Linked DNA regions of Homo sapiens. The protein of the gene in region 1 purifies or fractionates together with the protein of each later gene. This does not show direct contact. Each region holds a gene or a part of one and is shown on either strand. Other genes may lie near its edges.

Region 1 (3,819 bases):
AGCCACCCTGTATTGACTGCTCTCCCCAGATGGCTGTGTCCTCAGAGCTCAGACAGCGGGGCTGACCTCACGCAGCTGGCGGGGTAGAGCCAAGGTTGGAATGCAGGTTCCTGCTCTGTGCACTCCTGTCCTGGGCCCCTGCCTGACAGCCAAGCCCACCTTTGTCTGTCCCTACACAGTGTCTTCCCACGGGAGTTGAAAGAGGTGTTTGCCTCGTGGAGGCAGGAGTGCAGCAGTCGCGGCCGCCCGGACATCAGTGAGCGGCTCATCAGCGCCTCCCTCTTCCTGCGCTTCCTCTGCCCAGCCATCATGTCGCCCTCACTCTTCAACCTGCTGCAGGAGTACCCTGATGACCGCACTGCCCGCACCCTCACCCTCATCGCCAAGGTCACCCAGAACCTGGCCAACTTTGCCAAGTGAGTGCCTCCTCCCTCACCAGGCAGAGTTGGGCAGGGCTGGTGTCCACAGGGCAGGCCCTGGGGGTGTTTCTGCCCCCAAGCTGAGCAGAGACCATAAACAGGCCCTGGTTTTGTCCCTGTCATCCTCAGTCCTTCTCCTTCCCGCTTTTTAAAAAATAAAATCTCCACACCCTGTCCTTCTACTCAAGGTATATGTCATTTTGGTATGTTTCTTAATTTTTAAAGGTGACGACATGAGACATTTTTTTCCTTCTGCTTTTTTGAATTAATGTATTATTATAAGGATTCTCACATATCCCTTAACATTCATTAAGCCCTGTTTTGAAATAAATGACTAATATTCCTCCAAGGGGGACTGGCCCATATTTCCTTAATCCATTCCCTGTGCTTGGGCACTTGGGTTGGGCACCACCATCCTGGTGTCAGGCTATCAGGATGTCTTTGCTGATAAAGCACTATTGGTGTTTTTGGCTGCATCCTTAGAGCAAGTGGGCAGAAGTAGAAGGGCTGGGTCGTCTCACTGTTGTTCATTCTCAAAACATAGATTGAGCCCCATCCTGGGGCCATCTGTGTGCTGGGCTCTGACGGCACCAAGATGAATCAGTCCTGGTGGCGCTCAGCACTTCAGCCAGGGAGACGTGTGGAATGAGCAGGAGAGCAGTGATAGACACACACGAGCCTCTTAGGAGGGCTCTCAGCTTGTTGGGAGAGGAGACAGGAAAGCCTCCAGGGTGACATGATCCCCCAACTGCATGTCAGGGTGAGGCGTTCATTGTCTCAAGAGGAGCAGAGGCTGGGCATCCCAGGGAGGGCCATGCACTGTGCCAGGTCAGGAGAAGCGGGCGATGAGACCTAAGAGGACAGCAGGGACCTGAAGGCCAGACAGGGCTGTGGGAGCCACCAGAGGGTTTTAAACAAGGGAGAGGATGGCCTTCCTCTGTTCTGGATCCTGAAAAGCTCACCCTGACAGCAGTGGGCAGATGGGTTGGAGGGAGCAGGATGGTAGCCAGGAGACGTGAAAGGAGAGCATAGCTGTGGTTCCAGCAACAATAGCAGAAAATTCGCAGGGAGGGGAGCGGGTACAGGAGGCAGTGGCTGCAAGGGACAAGGTTAGGGGTGATTAGAAGGCAAAATCAGTGGGCCGTGCCATTTGGGAATGAGGAAGAGGGAGGAGTTGACAGCTGCCAGAGATTCTGTCTCAGGTGTATCTGTATGGGTAGTGGGGTCTCCACTTAGGGTAGGGAGCTCAGGAGGAGGGCATGGGTTTGGGTGTTGATGATGACTTCAGGTGTGGCAGGCTGAGTAGGAGGGACTCCCAGGGGTGGTGCCTGCAGATATATTAATACATGCCTGAAAGCTCATTGGGAGACCTGGGTTGAGCAGGGATTGAGCATCATCTGCATACCAGGGCAGTGAAACTTGGAGGAAAAGCCGAAGGACACTGTTAACAGGCAGTGTATGGGGGACACAGAACATTCCAGGTCCTGAGATAAAAGGTTCAGAAAAGGATCGCTGGACTTACCATGAGCAAGGAGGGCCCTGGTGACCTGGGTCAGAGCATATTCAGCTGACTTGGGGAGTGAATGGAGTGGGAGCCTGCCATAGTGGGGAAAGCGGGTGGTGGTGTCCCAGTGGAGGGAGTTCCTGGGCAGGGCCTGCCTGGGCCCAGTAGTGCTCACCCAACTGCCCTCTCTCCAGATTTGGCAGCAAGGAGGAATACATGTCCTTCATGAACCAGTTCCTAGAGCATGAGTGGACCAACATGCAGCGCTTCCTGCTGGAGATCTCCAACCCCGAGACCCTCTCCAATACAGCCGGCTTCGAGGGCTACATCGACCTGGGCCGCGAGCTCTCCAGCCTGCACTCACTGCTCTGGGAGGCCGTCAGCCAGCTGGAGCAGGTGCCTGTTGCCGTGGGGCGGAGGTGGGGCCAAAAGCTGCCATCAGGCTTTTAGTGTTCCCCCTTCCAGAGTAACCATGGAGGGCAGAGAGTTTGCCCAAGTGGCATGATCAGGCCAGGTCCTGTCAGAACACACTGGGGATCTGTGGGCCCCATTTTCTCTGTGGGCAAATGCTATGTTCACTCAGCAGTATCTGCCAAGGCTGCCCCACTCTGGGTACTAGAGCTGGGGTGTTCCGCATGCACTCAGCCTTTAGTGGACAAGCGCCACTGTGCTGCCTGCCAGAGCATGTGAGAAATAGAATTGGATCGTGAATCCGCCTGTATGAAGAAGATGACTCAAGACCCTGTACCTCCACTTGTCCAGCAGGAAGTCGAAAACCTTTCTAGGATTGCCCTTGACCATCAGTTGACAAGGTTACTCCCTAGACACCTCTGACACTGCTGCAGTCACCTGAAGTGAGCCCTCCCTAGCCCGAGACTTCACTGACCCCCAGCCTCAGCCCACACAGTGAGCAACTAGTTCTTGGACTTAAGGGCTGGGTCTACCAGGAACTACTTCCCGAATATCTGTTGCTTTCTAGGGCTCCAAGGGACCACCTTACTTTTGTAAGGTGCTGAAACTGGCCTGGAAGGCCCTTCATGCCTCCTGGTCCCATTCCCTAGAGGTGACCGCTCAGAGCACTGGTATGCAGCCTTCTGGACACGATCTGTGCATGTGTAAGCGCACACACACATGCAGGCGCACACACATAGAGCTCTTTTCCTTCTTCAGTTTGTTTTAAAGCAAGAACATACTGTGTATGCTGCTGTGTGCATTTCTTACCACTGTGTTGTGGGCCTCTTTGCTTGTCAGTGCAATCTCCACCACCCCCAGGGACTTTTTAATGACTGCATTGTATGAATGCTATTTATTTCACCAGTCCCCTATTGATGGACACTTAGGTTAGTCCTGACTTTTCACTAGAAATAGGTCCTGTTGCAATCAAAGGCCATCATTTTTGCTCATTTGTATCCACTTGCCTTTGGCTGTGAGAGACACAGGAGGGAGAAATGGAAATGAGGGCTGAGACCCTACATTCCACCTGTTCCAGTCCCTGCACTGCAGCCAACACTAGTCACTGTCACTGCCACCACTTACCTTTCCCCTGTGCTGTCCACGTATCTGCACAACCAGGCAGGAAGAATGGAAGGTGATCAGTATTGTCACATCGGTGATAGGGTGCAACAGGGATTTGAAACTCAACTGTTTGCCTCTCAATTGCGTGCTCTATTGCCTGCATGAGTTTTCACACTTTGTTTTCTCACAGAGACCTCTGTGGAAGCTTGTGCATAAACAGGTGAAGGCAGTGTCCCCAAAGCCTAGAATCCTCTGCCCCTTAAGTTCTCTAAAGCGTGCCAGCAAGGTTCAGATGGGTTCAGGCACTGCCTTCTGCCTGACCAGCACCTGAGGGTGCCTGCAGTGTGCTTGGACCATCTCCACTGGGGCTCAGGTGCCAAG
Region 2 (3,441 bases), on another chromosome or scaffold:
TCAAAGACTCCCATTCTGTTAAGCACATCTTACAGGGGTCACAACTAGGCCCCCTAAGCATACTGATCATTAACAGAATGACTGTTATCTTCTCTCACCAAGGAAAGAGCTCTAATTTCTCCTCCCCTTTCAGTTAACCTGCTGAGGCCACTCCTAAATACCTATACTGGCTTTCAATGTGTGACTGATTGCAACTATTGCTTTTTACAAAACTACCCCAAAACTTAGTGGCTGAAAACACACATTTATTATCTCCCAGTTTCTACAGGTCAGAAATCTGGGTGTGGCTTAGCTGGGTTCCTTGGTTCAAGGTTTCTCACAGGCCACTGCAAGGCCAGGACTGTGGTCCCCTCAAGACTAGATGGAGGGATGATTCACAACCAAGCTCATTCACATGGCTGTTGGCACCATTCCTCAAAGGGTGTTGGCCAAAGGCCACCCTTAGTTCCTTGCCACTTGGACTTCCCCATAAGGCAGCTCACACATGGCAGCTGGCTTCATCAGAACCAGCAAGTAAGAAGAGCCCCAGAGAAGGAGAGAGTAAGAGAACAAGACAAAATCACAGTCTTATGTAACCTAATCTTAGAATCACCCATTGCTTTTGCCATATCCTACAGTCGTCCCTCGGTATACGCAGGGCATTGGTTCCAGCATCCCTGTGTTTACCCCAGTCCGTGCATGCATACTTAAGTTCTGCAGATGACCCTGCAGAAGCCACATATTTGAAAAGCTGACACTCCTTATATGTGGATTTCTCATCTCGCAAATAATGTATTTTCGATCTACATGTTTGTTTGAACAAAATCCATGTATAGGTGTCCTGTGCTGTTCAAACCCATGTTGTCCAAGGGTCAACTGTATTTCTTAGAAGTCACTAGGTCCACCACTTGAGGGGAGAGGATTGCACAAGCGTGTGAATACTAGGAGATGGGGTTCATCTCAGAAGCTGTCTACCACTGTGATGAAAGGGTAATTCAGTGGGGGTGTATGAGCAAATTCTCAAGTAAAGCTGTTTTGGCCTAGGTGAAAAGAGGCTTTAGATAGATACATCTCTTAAACAAATGACACCTAAGCACGGCTGCTTGCGTACAGTAGGTGCTAAATAATTACTGTTTTTCTTTCTTTTACCTTTTCATTTGGGAATAATCTCTAAGTTAAAGTTGCAAGAAGAGTGAAAGAATTTCATATACCTTTCACAGATTCACCGTTTGTCAATAATTATATTTTGAATACATTATAAAATATGTCACATTGGAGGACAATATTTGTAACCATCAAAACTTTGGGGCCTGGTGAGAAGTGTAGGCTGGAGTCATATTGGATCTCTGCATATGGAGTTGTCATCTCTCAAATGCTTGCTTCTTCCTCTTCTTCCTCCAGAAAATCCTGAGCGAGCAGCTCTGTACTTTGTTTCTGGCGTGTGCATCGGGCTGGTGCTGACCCTGGCTGCTCTGGTGATAAGGATCTCTTGCCACACAGACTGCAGGCGGCGTCCCGGGAAGAAGTTCCTGCAGGACAGAGAGAGCAGCAGCGACAGCAGCGACAGCGAGGATGGCAGTGAGGACACCGTGTCCGATCTCTCCGTGCGGAGACACCGCCGCTTCGAGAGGACTTTGAACAAGAATGTGTTCACCTCTGCGGAGGAGCTGGAGCGCGCCCAGCGGCTGGAGGAGCGCGAGCGCATCATCAGGGAGATCTGGATGAATGGCCAGCCTGAGGTGCCCGGGACCAGGAGCCTGAATCGCTACTATTAGGGAGCAGCAGGACCCCGGAAACCACTGGAGGCCGCCTGGAAAGGAGAGCGTCTGCAGGGACAGTGGGCACAAGGAACTGAACCCAGCTCTGCTAATATTGTGATTTCAGAGAAAAAGCAGGACATGCCCCTTTTCTAGCCAGGAGGATTGCTCCTTTTTGGCCAAATGTATGGAGAAGTAGAAAAATCAAAGCAGTTCATCACCCTTTCCAGGTCTCGGAATGGTGCTGAAAAATCCTCTCCAACACTGTGGATGGAGATCGGAGAAACGCGACTGTGGTTTCTCTTGATTTCTGAGGATCTCAGAAGTTTCAGCAGACTTCCTTGCTCTGTGTTATTCCTTTGCAAAAGGAAAGATCATTATAGCATGAGGGCTGGGAATAGCAGGGTGAACTTAACCCAATAAATGCAATTTCCTAAATGACTTCATGCTATGGAGGTGATTCTGATTCAAATAGCATGATCCATGCTTATTATTTAAGGCTGATTTTTAAAATCTTGTGTTGCAAGGGCAACCTCGTCCATTTTAACTGGCACCTCAGGGATTAAAATCCTACTTTTTAGTGTAGTTCCCACCTCATTCATGAAAATGAATAGAACTATTGTATTATGGGAGATGTGTCAGTGAACTAGAAAATGTCAATAACCTCAAAGGATGAAGGGTTTTTATTTTAAATAGTTTATAAAATATATATTGACATGCATATTTGAAAATGCTGCATAAAAATAAAAGTGGTGTGTTTTCCCCCTCTTTGGAGACAAGAAAATTTTATTATGACTCTAGATAATTGTGATTTTAAACACTTTGTTTTTTTTTTTTTTTTTAATTGGATTTCAAAGAAAAGAATGGAAATGAGAGGTAAGGATTAAAGCCAAAGTTAGGATGGGAATTAAAAAAATAAACATTACATAAAATCTTTTTGGTTGCATGTCCGTCTCTGTGGTTACCCTTACCTTAAATGACAACCCTTTTATATACGTGGGTATGGGCTTTTGCCAGGCCCCTCAAGGATTAGAGTGGGGAGATGGTTCCCGTGTGATAATGGGCTTTTCACTTTCTGTAGGTTATATGTATGATTGCTATAGTTGAGTTGTTAAGCAGATAGAGGAATAGAAGACTTCCCTAAAGCTAGAAATAAGATGGTAGCCCTTATATGAAAAGAAGTTGGTAGGGAAGGAGGAGAAGCCAGGCTCTGCCAATTTAGAAATAGGTTACAGAGGACAAAACATCCCCTAAGCTGGTAAACAGGAAGAGTGAGACCTGTCTCTCTGTTGACTCCCTTCTCTTGTCATGGAGTAGATTCCTAGTCAGTCTATCTGGGTGCTCCAGGGCCTTCCTGCTGGGAGGCTCTCCCCTGTTCATTGACTTTGTCACCATGCTTAAGAGGATGGTCAGGAGACTTCCTCTGGTGAGGTCTCCACTGCTTTAGCAACCCACTTTTTGTTGTAAGGACTCTTGGAGGGCTCTGTTAAGAACTGAACAATCATAATCATAATCTTTGCTTGCCAAGGGGGCAATAAAGTTCACTTGCAACACTCAGTCGCTGGCCTGATTATATAATTTTGGGTGGCTAGCAACATTGGCTGGCTAGTTACAAGTGCCAAAATCTTGCTGAGTCAGCATCTCTGAATCTAGCTCCTTGCCCTTGTGGTTTCAGTCCCTTAGCAACAATTGCAGGAATCATCTG

Evidence for each region.
Region 2: the proteins of DAB2IP (region 1) and EVA1A fractionate together in Homo sapiens (co-fractionation; one large-scale study listed by BioGRID). This does not show direct contact.

The regions. Positions count from the first base shown.
Region 1 is NC_000009.12:121,766,315-121,770,133, forward strand, and holds part of DAB2IP (disabled homolog 2-interacting protein), read left to right. Parts: intron 1-179; coding exon 180-416; intron 417-2,117; coding exon 2,118-2,319; intron 2,320-3,819. UniProt on the Homo sapiens protein: Functions as a scaffold protein implicated in the regulation of a large spectrum of both general and specialized signaling pathways.
Region 2 is NC_000002.12:75,491,549-75,494,989, reverse strand, and holds the end of EVA1A (protein eva-1 homolog A), read left to right. Parts: intron 1-1,380; coding exon 1,381-1,754; 3' UTR 1,755-2,672; downstream 2,673-3,441. UniProt on the Homo sapiens protein: Acts as a regulator of programmed cell death, mediating both autophagy and apoptosis.